Linked DNA regions of Homo sapiens. The protein of the gene in region 1 interacts with the protein of each later gene in a pairwise test. Each region holds a gene or a part of one and is shown on either strand. Other genes may lie near its edges.

The links. The genes of interacting proteins can lie anywhere in the genome.
Region 2: the proteins of PLCL2 (region 1) and DSCAML1 interact in a two-hybrid assay, tested with the Homo sapiens proteins (one study listed by BioGRID and IntAct).

Annotation. Positions count from the first base shown.
Region 1 is NC_000003.12:16,880,344-16,887,954, reverse strand, and holds the start of PLCL2 (inactive phospholipase C-like protein 2), read right to left. Parts: upstream 3,001-7,611; 5' UTR 2,916-3,000; coding exon 2,589-2,915; intron 1-2,588. UniProt on the Homo sapiens protein: May play an role in the regulation of Ins(1,4,5)P3 around the endoplasmic reticulum.
Region 2 is NC_000011.10:117,430,205-117,437,231, reverse strand, and holds part of DSCAML1 (cell adhesion molecule DSCAML1 isoform 1 precursor), read left to right. Parts: coding exon 1-110; intron 111-1,432; coding exon 1,433-1,588; intron 1,589-3,760; coding exon 3,761-3,791; intron 3,792-3,975; coding exon 3,976-4,094; intron 4,095-4,727; coding exon 4,728-4,880; intron 4,881-5,503; coding exon 5,504-5,698; intron 5,699-6,198; coding exon 6,199-6,510; intron 6,511-7,027. UniProt on the Homo sapiens protein: Cell adhesion molecule that plays a role in neuronal self-avoidance. Promotes repulsion between specific neuronal processes of either the same cell or the same subtype of cells.

The DNA of each region.
Region 1 (7,611 bases):
ATTATCACCTTGCTTACTAATCTACTCCTGCCTCTACTCAGAGACCACCTGACTGCATTCATCCCTTATATTAAAAAAAATAAGGAAACCAAGGAAAGATGTCACTATTGCTTTTTCACATGGGCTTCTGCTTTAGCTTTTTATTCTTTTTTTTTTTAAACAAAAGTGAAACATAATTTCTGCCATTCACATGACAAAACTATCTGTGCAGTATTTGTTGCTTTATGAAATTTGATGTTAAAGACTTTGTTTTCTATTAGGATATTGTCCTGATGCTGGAAGTTATCTTTAGAAAATACCACAATACATTCCAAAAATCTTGATGCTTCAAGGCACCAATTCAAAGGGAAATATACCAAGTAGTTACCTATTTAAATATAGCATCCTCTCTTTCCTATAACCCAGTATTGATCAACTTTCAACACTACTTCCATAATTTTCGAAAGTTTTAAGAAAATGCAAAGTGAAAACAGAGGCAAGAAAAAGGAGTATGTCAAGCCTTCTTTGGAGGTACAATACAATGAACAAAATATGGGACTGGTAAATCCAAAACCAATTGTTTTATAAATTAACAGAACTCAGAGAAAACATGTACTTTCTCCATTCATTCAATAAGCAATTTATTGAGCTGCTACTACATTCCTGGCACTTTATATCTAGGGTTACACTGGTGAACAAGAAGCCAAATGCTTTCTTTACAAAGAAGAAAAATGACAAAATATCCTTAAAAGTTTCAGAATTCAACATAAGTATCAATATCATTTCTAAAATCAGTGATTTTTGAACATTAATCATTTCCCCCATGTGCTTCTAGAGCCTTCAATTAAGAAATGGTATCTATTGACAAGTTCCCAATTCCATATATCAGAAATACTAACAAATCATCCTTCTTGCTTATCGCCCAGTAATGTAAAATTAAAACAAATGTTTTTGTAATTCAGTAAGTTACACTATGAATCTCACTATGGACACTAATAAAGTTTGATTTTTTAATGCAAAAACAAGTATTCAAAACAATTAAAAGAAAGGGGTTAAAATTAGGTAGGCTGGTATCTTCTTTGGAATTTTCACCTCAAATTTTATTAACACCACAATGCAAAATCACCACAAATATTTTATGACAAATAAAAACAGAAATGTCACCTAACTCTGTCAATAGGATTGATTATCATGCACAGTTGAAAGCAACTTCCATGGAAACATAAGCTACAGAGTAAAAGAAAACGTAAGTCACTAAAAGCTATGTATGCAGCAAAAAGACACTTTACTTTCCTTAGTTTATCTCTACGTGTGTGCTGCAGGTAGTTAATACACTTCATCTCCAAACCCTTCAAATTGTGTCCTTGCCCAGACATAAACTGCGCAAACAGATGACAAAGGGAAATGCAGTTTCACAATTGCCTCTTACATAGAGTAGCAAGATGGTATATTTCACTAGATTACTGCATAAGTTGATAACACCATCAGACATTTTCACAGTACTTGGAAGATTTCTGTAGGTCCAATAAAATTTCAGATACCACCACTGCCAACTCTCTTTACTGTGGCACGTTCTGCCCTCCCACCAGTTATCAGCCACAGGAAGGGTGGGTGCAGCCTGTCAATTTGCTTTGCTGCTCCCTGTCCTGATAACTCCTTGATTTTCAGAAAGCAATGTTTTCATTTGCTCCAAACTTGAGCGAGCCGAATGAGCTGGTCTTGCCTAAGGCTCTGCTCTTCTTAGCTCATCAACTATTTTTTTTTGCACTTCATGTCATGAAAAATATTTTTACATTGCGAACCAAAATGTAACATTAGAATGAAACTAACACAAACTCGGGAGTTCCTAATATTACTTCTTGAGTTTAAAATGCTCAAAACAATCGCTGGCTTTCTTCCGCTAACACTGTGCAAGCAAAACCAAGCAAACTGCCCAAAAGAACTTCCACAGTACTCGAGGCCTGCCTACTGCAGCAAGGAAAAAGATTAAATCGTGTGGAACTGTAATCTCTGAGCTTTTGAGCCTAAGAAAGCGGAAATCTGCATTTATGTTCAGAAATCTACTCTATTTTTCTTTGTGACTGAGTGACCGGATATTAGGAGATTTTGCACCCTCGAAGTGTAAACATTTGTAAGAGCCAACTAACTGTATACGGATCAGAAGAACCCTATTAAATAATCTCTGTTCACCCTCTGTTCGCCGCCTGGGATTTTTAAGAAAATGTTCTCACATTTCACATAATCCCTATCTGTGTTTAAGATACAATAGAAATCTTACAGGGAGTCTGTTAACCAGACTAGGCTACACATAAGAGTATGCCCTACCCCGGCAGGTACAAGGCCCTAATGCCAGACCAATCCTGGAAGAGGTGACAGCCCCAAGTTCAACTGAGGATGTCTGAGCACAGCTCCCCCTGCACATTAGGGATCACCTCTCCATTCTTTCCACATGCCATTTGCATCCAATCCCCGCTCAACCACCCCAAGCACCCATGCTCCAGTGGTTCCTGTTAGCAGTGGGCTTCCTCCTTCCACCACCACTCCCCCAGGGAGAAAATAGAATCCAAGGACGGCTGAGGGTGGGCGATGAGCGCCCTTCTCCCACCTACCTTGATGATGCTGCTCCGGCGGGGCAGGCCGCCCGGCTTGCTCTCCCGGGGGAGGGTACAGACGACCGCGCTGGGGGTCGGGGCGAGCGCAACGCCGCGGGGTCCCCTGGTAGGGCTAGCCCGGGCTTCGTCCCCGGACACGCCGAGGCTGCAGTCTCCGTTGGAAACCCCGCCGCTGTCATAGCGCGCCCGCCCGTGGCCGAGGCGACCTCCCCCGCCACCGCCTTCCCCCACTCCGGCTTTCAGGGCGCCCTTGGCGCCGAGGGCCGGGCCCGGGGAGGTGGGCAGGGCCCCGCCGGCGGCGCCCCCCCGGCCGCACTCCGCCATGGGCGCCCCGCGACCCGCCTGCACAAAGCCGCGTCCTCGCGTCCCCGCGTCCCCGCCGCCGCCTCGGGCCGCCGCGCGCGGCCCCTCCTCCTCTCCTCCCGCCGCCGCCTCGGCCGCTTCTTCCGCTTTTTTTTTTTTTTAATTTAGATGTGATGTTTGTTTCGAGCTCTCGCCTTGCGCACGGTTAAAGTCGCGGCGGCAGAATTATCGGAAGATTCCTGCAGGGGAAAGAAGAGAGAGACGAGTCAGCTCCGGCGCCGGCGGAGCCCCGGCTCTCGGCACCTGGGGAAGGAAAACACGCCCCAACACACGCGCCTCTGCGGGCGCCAAAAATAACCCGCGCGGGCCGGGCGCCCACCCCGGGGCAACCCGCGCCCACCTCAGGGGCCCCAGGCACCCACCCCGAGGTAACGGGGCGCCCACGTCAGGGGCTCGGGGCGCGCTTCCCCGGGGCTCAGAGCAACTGGGGTCGGAGCACCCGCCACGCAGGAAAAGGCGCCCACCTCCGGCGAAGGGCGAGGGGAAGTGGCGGCCGCCCCGACACTCTCTGGACACGCGGAGGCGGCTCCCGAGGATCTCCCGGCCCCGGGCGGGCGGGGGGCGACGCGTGGGTCTCTCCGGACCCTAACTCCCCAGAGGCTGCCGCGTGCCGAGCTCTGTCACGTCCCCTCAGAGCCCCGTTAAGGCCCGCGGCGCCGAGAGGAAGCCCACGGCGGGCAGGGGCGGCCGGGTATGACAATCGCCGTGCGGCCCCGGGGCAGCTCCCGGAGGGGGCAGCCCAGACCCACCCCACCCGCCGGCTGCTGTCTCCTCCCGAGCTCGGCGCTGCCCCCTACAGGCCGCGTGGTCCCTCCTCGGTCGCCCCCTGACCCACCATGAGCCGCCTAGCTCCCTGTCGAGATTGCCGCCGTCGCGGCTGCTGTCACCGAGGCCGGGTCATCGGGCCGCGGGGACCTCAAAGCCGAGTGGACGGGAGCCCCAAGTCATTGCCTATCCTTCGCCTCCCCAGAGCTGCTGCAACTGTCAGTCACCCACCCGGAACCCCGAGGGGCAACTACCAAGTAGGCCTCGGGGCCCGGAACAAGGGTCCCGGGGCTCAGGATCTCGGCCGCTGCGCCTCACTCCTGCCCCAGCCCCGCGCACGGAACTCGTTTCCTTCCCACCCAGTTCGGGACACTCCTCTCTGACTTCCCCAGTAGGTCAGACTCATTTCATACACTGGGACCAATTCCTTTCCCTTGGGCTCCTGATTGATTCAACTAGTTGGAAGGATGCTGAGGCAGGGGTGAAGGCTGGGGTGGCTGGCAGGCTATGAGGGGCAGAGGACATCAGCAGAGCCTATTTCGTGCCCTCTGAGTCTCCACACACAGATTTATCATTGAGACCTTCCCGATTCCCCTACCAGGGATGCCGGCTGGCCCTGCCGGCCTGCGGGGCCCAGCCTAAGTCAGGCTCATCTTTTGGGACAGGATCTCACTTGCAGCGCTACAGCCAGTCCCTCTTCTGGTTCTCACGCACCCACTTAAGGCGGAGTGACTGGCCTAAAAGTCCAAGCTGATCGTGTGGCTTCCGTTCGTAAATATCTCCCCTGGATCTCCCTCCCTGGAGCCAGACAAGACTCAAAACTCCGAAGGGTGAGACCCCAGACCTTCCACCGCCACCCCACGCCCCAGGCCTGGGCCCACCCACCTCTCCATCCCAGGCTCCGTGGGCTCCAGCTTCCTACCCTCTCTGGCACCCCAGCCCTTCCCCAACTCGTGTGCTTTCATTTCCAGGAATGCAGTCCCCGCAGGGCGCAAAGGAGAAACTAATAGTCCAGAGGCGGGGTGAACTTAAAGACCTGGCTTTCATTAGCGTGGTGTTGTAACAGACTGCCAAGGAGCCTCTGAGGAAATGGATTTACGTACATATACATACTCGCCCTTGCCCCTGAAGCAACATCAAATACTTTCATGTTATTCTTGGGGGCGTTTTAATTCTTCCGATCCTCTGAATTCGTGTTTTTGTACATCTCTTTCCAACCTGGGCCTACACACTAACAGAAATAGTTTTTTACATCGAAGGACAATGCTTAGTGTTTTATTCAGTCTCAGCTCTTTTCTTTCTTTTTTCTCGTTGTGTTTCAAAATGTTTATTTTTTCTGTCTTGTGATAGTTTTGGAGGAAAAATATTGAAATAATTCAAATCAGGCTCTTAACTCTGCTTTATTAAATTTATAGTCATAGTAGCCTGTGAGTATGCTTCGGGGGAGGAAAAAAGAATGCTGGGGTCTTTATTCTTCAAGTTCTCTAAGTTTGATATTTTGAATAAACACCCAGAGGTGTCTCTGCCTTTTGTGTGTTAGTATCTAATCTTTCCTGCATTTACGAGTCACTAGTAAAATGCTATGAAAGCCATAGATCCCATGGCTCTCACTGTGATTTTCCTGGGCTGAGTAGGGACTTAGTGATGTTTAACCCCCAGTATGCTTTTTATAGAAGCACCAGCTGATTCACCAGTGCCCTCCAAAGTGAGCACCTATCCATCTCACTCTGGACTCCCAACAGGTCATACCAGGGAGCTTCGTTGAAATAGACTTGGCATTTAAATTAAAATGTTTCCCAAAGCATCTTGGCAGACCTGTAACTAATGATGCCAGAGGCCCAAGGCCTGTGCCAGGTTCCCTTTTATTCCCATAAGTGCTTGTCTCCCACAAGCCACTGGTCACACGCCTGCTGATGTTATAGAAGCACTTCTTCATCCCACAAACAGCCCAACTGTAGGTACCCTATCTCAGACATGGTGAAGGGAAGCAGCATGTTCCTCTGACATGTGCGATGCTTGGCTCCCAACAGGCTTTTTATAATAAGCTAAACTCAGATTTTTTCATCACAAATAGCGTAGTAAGTAATTGTTTTTCCTCATTCCTGCTTGTCTCTCTGCAGTCACTAAGTGGTTGCTGTCCATTCCTCATATTCCACAAGCAATATTATTGAAGAAATTGTAAATATTTTGCCAAAATTCTTGCTGAAGTGTTTTCATGGCATTGTGAAATTCGTAGTAGTTGGAGTTAGAAAAAGAGCCAAAATATCATAGTCATTCCTCAGCGAATATTGTCTAATGGTTCCCTCAGATTACATTTCAGAGCAGGGCAATAAAAGATAGGCAAGACATTAATAAAATGCCCATTCTAAATAGCTCCATGATGCTTATGCCAATTTATTTTGTCTGTATGCAAACGGTTGGATTCTGGTGAGTAACCTGCTCATATTTAAAGTAGATACCTTTAAAATCTCATTCTATCATGCCAGCAATACAAGGCTTTATCTCTTTTAAATTTTCTTCGTATTTCAATCCATCTCAGATTTTAATCATTGTCACTCTTCATCAAACTGTCTTCTATTTGCATCATCAATTTAATGCCCAGAACTTGAACTATTCAGACTCCCTGTTCCATAAGAACCTTCCTTCAGTCTCAAAAATAACACTGACTCAGTTTACTGACTTCTTGCCATCATTTATACCCTCGTAGGTTATGAATTCATATCTAGTTTCCAGTTCACAGGCTCCAATATTAGGACTCTCCAACTTTTTTTCTGATTCAGTGAGTACTTGGCCTTCAGATTATTTTCTTCCTTAATGTATTATGACAATTTTCATTTCCCAAACCTCAATCACATGTTATTTCCTCTATTTCTCCAAAGATGCAGTTCAACCTCTGAGCCTTCATAGTCAACTGCTGTTCATATGCTTAACATAAATGCTAACTAGAGCAGAAAGTAGATGACCAAAATGCTTTAAGGAAATAGTAGATTATATCAATGTACTAGTCCACACTGGCAACTCATTTGCTTCCTGAGTCAATCCAAGGGGTTGATTTTAATCTATTATGCTCCTACAGCTTAAATTATATTTATTTTATCATGATCCTCAACAACAAGAAATATGTAGCGATTGATTGCCTTTTTTCCTGAGCAGTAATGTGGCAAGTTAGACCTGCCAAAAGCTTTCATTTCCATATTTTCCTCTCTTCTGACACAAAAGATCCTTCACCCATTTTCCTTGGATCCATCTTCCACAAGTGTATATGGCTGCCAAGAAGTTAGGCACTCAGGGAATTACAGCTATGCTTTTCAGCCACTGAGGAGCTACTTTGCGAGTTCATTAAGTTTTTTCAGTGGCTATTGGTAGCACTTTGAGGGAATCTATTAATCAATGGGAATTTGATAAGATCATTCTATCAGCAAAAGGATACAATATGATAGACTAATATGAGTCCCTCAATTAGTGTAATAACTGTTACTTATTACACTGGTTTTATAAATGCTGTCTCATGTATATGATTGTATGTCTACCACCATTTTATTACAGGAGTCATTGCAAACTCAGATGTGTCTGGGGGCCAGGTAGGTAATGTAATGAGTGAAGTTGGAGGGATTTGTTTCATAATAGCATCATAATTCTTGTTTTTCCAACAACGATATACTTTGCATATCAGAGTAATACTCTTCCTGATTCACTTCTGGCTTTCTAATTTTGATAGGGCCTTGATACAAGAAATATTTCACTTTCCTCTTAACTCTAAAAAAGATGTGTGAGCATACTGATAAATAGCAACTGACACCCAGCCAGGTGTAGTATGGCAACACAGAATGTTAGACTCAGGTACTCTGGTGAGAAATCTTTTGGCTACCTTGAGGGAATCTTGGCTCAGTGC
Region 2 (7,027 bases), on another chromosome or scaffold:
TCTGACGGAACTGCGAGAGGCCACGTGGTACGAGCTGCGCATGAGGGCTTGCAACAGTGCGGGCTGCGGCAATGAAACAGCCCAGTTCGCCACCCTGGACTACGATGGCAGTGAGTCGCAAGGGTGGAAGGGATGGTACAGAGGCTGGAGCAGGGTGGTGCGAAGGAAGTGGGCAGAGTGGCAGATACATAAAGAGACAGACTAATAGAAAAACAGGCAGGAATGCAGGTGGGGGAAATGCTGGCCTGCAGGTGAAGGGGCTGACAAAGGGGACATCAGGTTTGTTGCAGCCAGGTAAGCGGGCAGATGCACCAATGGCCACTACAGATGGACAGACACATAGGTCAGTAATACCAAAGATGGAGAGTCTTTGAAGCTGCAGTCCTCAATCACTGTGCATTGTTTCAGGGAGGTGACAAGGGAGGTAGAGGTGTGGTTGAGGTCCTGACCTCTAAGAACTTTCTGCTGATATGGAATATTAGCCAGGAGGGGACAGCCTATGCTGCAGTCGCAAATACCAAAACCTGGTGGCTTAACCCTGTACTGATTTGTTTCTTGCTCTCTTGGAGTCCTGCGAGGGTTGAGTGGCCACCATCTTTTTGAACATGGAGACTCCAGGATCCACAGAAAAGGCATACTACCAGTTCCTAACTGCATCTGCCACATGGGGATACATACACACGTGCACACATACACACACATACACACACACACACATCCATTGAAGGGACATGGAAGGCTGAATTCATAGAAGCCCATTGTCACAAGTCTACCTATGTGTTAAGGAAACAGAATAAAAGCAGTATTAAAAGGGGATGGACTCAAGCAAGGAAGGCTTCATGAAGGAGGTGACTCTTAAGCAAAGCTCTGAAACAGGCAAGGGTCAGGGCTTGGCAGAGGGTTATGTCAGCAGGAGAACTTGCCATGCTTCCCCACAGGAGCCCCAGGTTAACAGATATGGCCCCCAGGAGGGGTGAGCAGGGAGAGAATGTAGGGTTTGTAGTGGTTTTTGTCTCCATCTGGGGAAGAGAACCCAGGGTCCACTGCCCAGACTTCTCCCTACCATGCTTCACCCTTTGTTCTCCCCACCCCAGCTGGATATCAGAATTTAAGCCCATCAATCCACTCTCTGGGAATGAGCACTGAACTTCAACAGGCGAGAGACTAACTCCAGGAGACTTTAGGCTAATTCTACAACAGTACCAGGACTTTGTTAATAAAATGCAATATTAAAACTACACAACTGTTCATGGCTGTCCTGATAGGACCAGAATTTGGGGAGCAGAGGGGAAGTCCAGGGTTCTGTGCCAGGAGGTGGAGGTCAGAGCCCAAGGGCAGCAAGAGAGGTCAGAGGACTGCCCCACCCATGAGATGTTCTGCACAGCACCTGGCTCATAAGGGACATCTAATTCTATTCTTTGCCCTCATTCAGGCACCATTCCACCCATCAAGTCTGCTCAAGGTGAAGGGGATGATGTGAAGAAGCTGTTCACCATCGGCTGCCCTGTCATCCTGGCCACACTGGGGGTGGCACTGCTCTTCATCGTACGCAAGAAGAGGAAGGAGAAACGGCTGAAGCGACTCCGAGGTGGGGGAGCTTCCTATGGGCCTTCCAGGAGGGGGTGTTGGCTCTCAGCCACATTGTCCCCCCCCTTCCCTGGCTCACAGCACCATCTGGATGATACAGAGTGCCTGTGTCCCCTTGAAGGAGGAGCAGCCACTCAGACTTTCTGAAACCTCCTTAGTTCAGAAGGTTTCGTTCACCACTTCCTCCTCTATGCCCCCAAGACTTTGTGCCTGCCCCAGTCAGGGCTAATATTTAGAGGTACACACTGGTAAAGCCATGTTGATTGTTAAATATTTAAACATTTCCATGTTGGTTGGTAAACAGATGTTGCTCCTTTCCACACTGGATGCTTCATCCCCTCTCACGGGATCCCTGCAACTTTCCTAGGACCCATTCACTAAAGAATAGACCTGCAGGTAGTCTCTAGGACAATGCTCAGTTCTAACTGGGCAGTTTCTGCACCATGTCAGGTGTTAAATATTTTGAATATTATCCCCTTTTTCCATTACCTGATGCCACAGTCTACTGTGAATGGGTCTGATTTACCTCAGTTTTCCCACAGCCTAACACAGTGTCTGGCACCTACTAGTTGCTTCATAAATATACTTTCACTTATTTGGAAAACTTTTATTGGGTCTGCTTCATCATAGATACTGCAAGACTATAGAGATCAATAAAGAACGGCCAAGCCATACTCTTACAGAGTTTATCATCTAATGTGAGGAGCCAGGAGACAATAGTAGCACAGAAGAGGGAATGACTAATGCTCCCTATTGTGTTCAGGAATTGGGTAAATGGATGAATAGATGGTTCAATGGATGGTTGATGATTGGATGGATGAATGGATGGAAGGATGGATGGATGGATGGATGATTGGGTGGATAATTGAATGACTAGATGGGTGGTGAGTAGTTACATGGTTGGATGGTTGAATGGATCACTGAATAAATGGTTGAATGGAAGGATGTATAGATAGAAGGATGGCTGGATGGCTGAATAGATGGCTGGGTGTAAGGATGGTTGAATAAAAGGCTGAATGAATAGATGGGTGGATGGATGGATAAATTGATGGATTGTTGAATGGCCAGATAATGATTATATGAATAGTTGAACAGATAGGTAGATGATTGAACAAATGCTTGGATGGATGGATGACTATTCTGATAGATCGATGGATGACAAGATGGATGGATGGCTGGATGGAAAAACTATTGGAATTGTGGAATGATTGGGTGAATGGTTAAAGGAGTGGTTGGATGTAAGGTTTAACATATAAATATAAGAATGATTGAATGGATGTTGAATTCATGAGTGAATGGTTGAATGGATTACTGGTTGAATCAATGGGTGGATGGATAGACAGATGGATGGTTGAATAGGTGGATGATGAATTAATGGTTGGTTGGATGGATGAATGGATAATTGGATGGTAGGTGGTTAGATGGATGGATGGCTAGATCAGTGAATGGATGGATGGATGGATCAATGGATGGGTGAATGGATAGCCAGACAATTGGATGGTTAGATGCATGCATACAGCTATTTGGGATTCATTCTGACAGCTCATTCTCAGGTATCAGGGGTCTAATAAATTAACTAGGCCCTTTAATTCTCCTCTCTTCCAAATTCCTAACCTGAGAGTCCTGATCTTATTCAAGGCTCCTCTGAGACAAAGCAGGGGCCACAAAATCCATCCATGGACTTTTTGGGGACAGAGGCCCCAGAGGAGGAAGTGAAGCCTCTTGGTTGATATGAGAGTTTAATCATCTGGGGCTTCCCATTGACCACCTCTACTACATCCTCCACTCTCTCCTCTCCACAAGATATAACTGAAGATAAATCTTCCACTGATATCCATTTCCAGCCTGTTATGGTGTTGTGTTTAAGCAGAGTCAATTCATGAAGCAGATGAGGCACTTGCTATGCCCCCAGTGCTTTGGGAAGGTTCTCTCAATTAGATAAAATTTGAAGAAAGGAAAACAGACTTGAGCCAAATCCTGAATTTGGAGCAGTGAAACCGCGTCATGTTTTGGGCTGTTTTGTAGGTCCTTACATTTCTCCTTCTGCTTCTTAGGAGACCAGCCCTGGCCCCATTTTAAGGAATTCTCCACCTTGTTTCCCATGCCTCTCCCATTGTCATCCTGTTCAAACTTCATTCTCACCCAGCCCTCCTCTCCCTCTACTGTTTTGCAGATGCAAAGAGTTTGGCAGAAATGTTGATAAGGTGGGTATCACCAAGCTGCTTCCTTTCTCCTCCCTTCTCCCCTCTGTCCTGAGGAGGACCCAGGAGCCTCGCTCTGAACTCCCAGAATAGGAGGCAGGCTTCTAAAATCCCACTGTCCTGCAGAGCCCCCTTCCCCAACCCCTTATGGCTGCTGAGCCACCACCTCCAGTCTTTCTCCCCACAGCAAGAACAATAGAAGCTTTGACACCCCTGTGAAAGGGCCACCCCAGGGCCCACGGCTACACATTGACATCCCCAGGGTCCAGCTGCTCATCGAGGACAAAGAAGGCATCAAGCAACTGGGTGAGTGACAGGTGCCACAAGTTCCCTGTCCTGCTGGGTGTGCTTCCCCAGGCTACAACCCATGGAAGTCAAACACCAACCCTCATGGCAGTGCCCAGGGTTCTGGCAGTAGCCCCATCAACCACTCAACAACCTTAGAACTCACTGTGGCTTCTCTCAAGGGCTAATTTTCCTCCTCTGTCCAACGGAGGGAATTGCTGGCCTTTCTGTGACTCAACATTGGATAAAGTCTGGGTTGGTGGGTCATGCCTGTTATCCCAGCACTTCGGGAGGCCAAGGAGGGAGGATCACTTGAGGCCAGAAGTTCGAGACAAGCCTGGGCAACATAGTGAGATCCCATTTCTACCACAAAAAAAAAAAAAAATAGCCAGGCATGACACATCCTGTAGTCTCAACTACTCAGAAGGTTGAGGTAGGAGGATAGCTTGAGCCCAGGAGATTGAGGCGGCTGCAGTGAGCAGTGATCACAATTAAGCCTGGGCAACAGAGTGAGACCCTGTCTCAAAAAAACAAACAAACAAATCCACAAACAAAAAACACATTGGATAAAGACAAAGAGAAATTCAGTCACATCCAAAAGAGCTTTAAAAAACAATTGTAAAGGACTCCCAGTAATTGTCCTTCTTTCCCCAGGAGATGACAAGGCCACCATCCCTGTGACAGATGCTGAGTTCAGCCAAGCTGTCAACCCACAGAGCTTCTGTACTGGCGTCTCCTTGCACCACCCAACCCTCATCCAGAGCACAGGACCCCTCATCGACATGTCTGACATCCGGCCAGGAACCAGTACGCATTATCCCCAGGGAGACAGCCCTTTTCCCAACCGGGGTGGCTTGGGCATAGCATGACACAGAGGTGGTGTTTTTTTTTAAAGGGAGGAGGGAGCTTAATGGAATAGAATGCAAAAATGGAAAGCACTGGAATGAGCGTCTGGAGACCTCAACTGCAGATTTACTAACTGTGACCTTGGGCGTATCACTAACTTTATCTCTCTGGGCCTGTTTCCTTACCTAGAAATTTTGAGAGTATTGGGTATTCGTGTTCTCCAAGGGTCTTTCTATCTCTAGCACCGTGTATCTGGACATAGGATAGAACACATCAAGGACTGTAGGGAATGAATGGACAGTCAGGAGGCAGCAGGAAAGGACATCACATTCTCCCCCAGGTGGAAGGAAAAGATGGGGTGGGCGGGGAGAATGCCCTCCACTGCCCCCTCCCCAACCTTGACTCGATTGCTCTTCTCCTCTGGGGACAGCGATGTGGTTAGGAAAGGCAGCATTCCCAAGGGCGCTTCTGTGGCTGCATCTGCCTCTTCCCTTGCTCCCCCCTGCCCTTTCTGGTAAGTGCCAGCTGCCCAAGCCTGGGTGCCTTTGGTTGGAGGATGCAATTTCTTGCTTCTGTCTGTGCAGATCCAGTGTCCAGGAAGAATGTGAAGTCAGCCCACAGCACCCGGAACCGGTACTCAAGCCAGTGGACCCTGACCAAGTGCCAGGCCTCCACACCTGCCCGCACCCTCACCTCCGACTGGCGCACCGTGGGCTCCCAGCATGGTGTCACGGTCACTGAGAGTGACAGCTACAGTGCCAGCCTGTCCCAGGACACAGGTGTGCCTAAGGCCCTGCTGGCATCCTGAACACCTCCCCCCAGTTCCCCATCATTCACCTTCACCTTCTATTCTTCCCAGCTTCTACCCACCAGCTCATGGGGCCCAAGGCACAAGTCAGTTTCATGTCTAGCTGGTCACTGACCCACTGTGCAGCTGGGACAAAAACACTTGACCTCACTGAGCTCTACTTAGTCAGGGAGTTAATTTTGCTTTCCCAAAAACTGTCAGAGAAAATGGTACACATGATGTTCATTGGAGAAAGGGCTGAATGTTCCAGGGGATGGTTGCTTATTTTCAAGAATGAAAGGTGTTCTGCCCTTCATGAGCCAAAGATCCTACTTCTGCCACCACTGCCACCTTCACGGGATCTTCTCAGCCTGGTGCCCTCCATGGCCAGACTTACAGATGGCTGCTGGGGTTACGGGCAGGGGAAGTGCTCAGTCAGTCTCACTTATACCCTCCTCCCCGTAACCCACCCCTTTCCTCTTAACTCCCCAGACAAAGGAAGGAACAGCATGGTGTCCACTGAGAGTGCCTCTTCCACCTACGAGGAGCTGGCCCGGGCCTATGAGCATGCCAAGCTGGAGGAGCAGCTGCAGCACGCCAAGTTTGAGATCACCGAGTGCTTCATCTCTGACAGTTCCTCTGACCAGATGACCACAGGCACCAACGAGAACGCCGACAGCATGACATCCATGAGCACACCCTCAGAGCCTGGCATCTGCCGCTTTACCGCCTCACCACCCAAGCCCCAGGATGCGGACCGGGGCAAAAACGTGGCTGTGCCCATCCCTCACCGGGCCAACAAGAGTGAGTGCTCAGACCACCTCCCAGGCAGTGCCCCCCCGCCCCCTGGCCCCAGCCCCATGAGCCCTGGCTAGATCTAGTTCTGCCAGCACCAGGATCATGCCAGCCCAGCTTGGCTCCTTGGCAGTGCAGGGTGGTACCAACAGCAAGGACTTAGGAGCAGGCAGATCAGGGCCCACATCCTGGCTTAACCTCTTCCTATGTCTGTGGCCTTGGGCAAGTCATTTAACCTCTGTGGCCTTAAGTTTCTCATTTGTAAAATGCCAACGATAGTATCTACTTTGCATTGTCATAATGGGCATTAGAAATGATATACATCCCCAGCGTGTTGTAAGGCCTCATTCATTCGGTAGTGAGCATCCCCTTAATCTGAAGCTGTGCCAGGATGGAAACAGATCCCTTCAGGGTCAGCTGCCCAAGGGCCTCTGGTCTCAATGCTGTTTGAATTTAATCCAGACCCAAACAAACAATCCTGGCAGCTCCACCCACCATGGTCATACCTCTCAGTAGGCAGTGACCT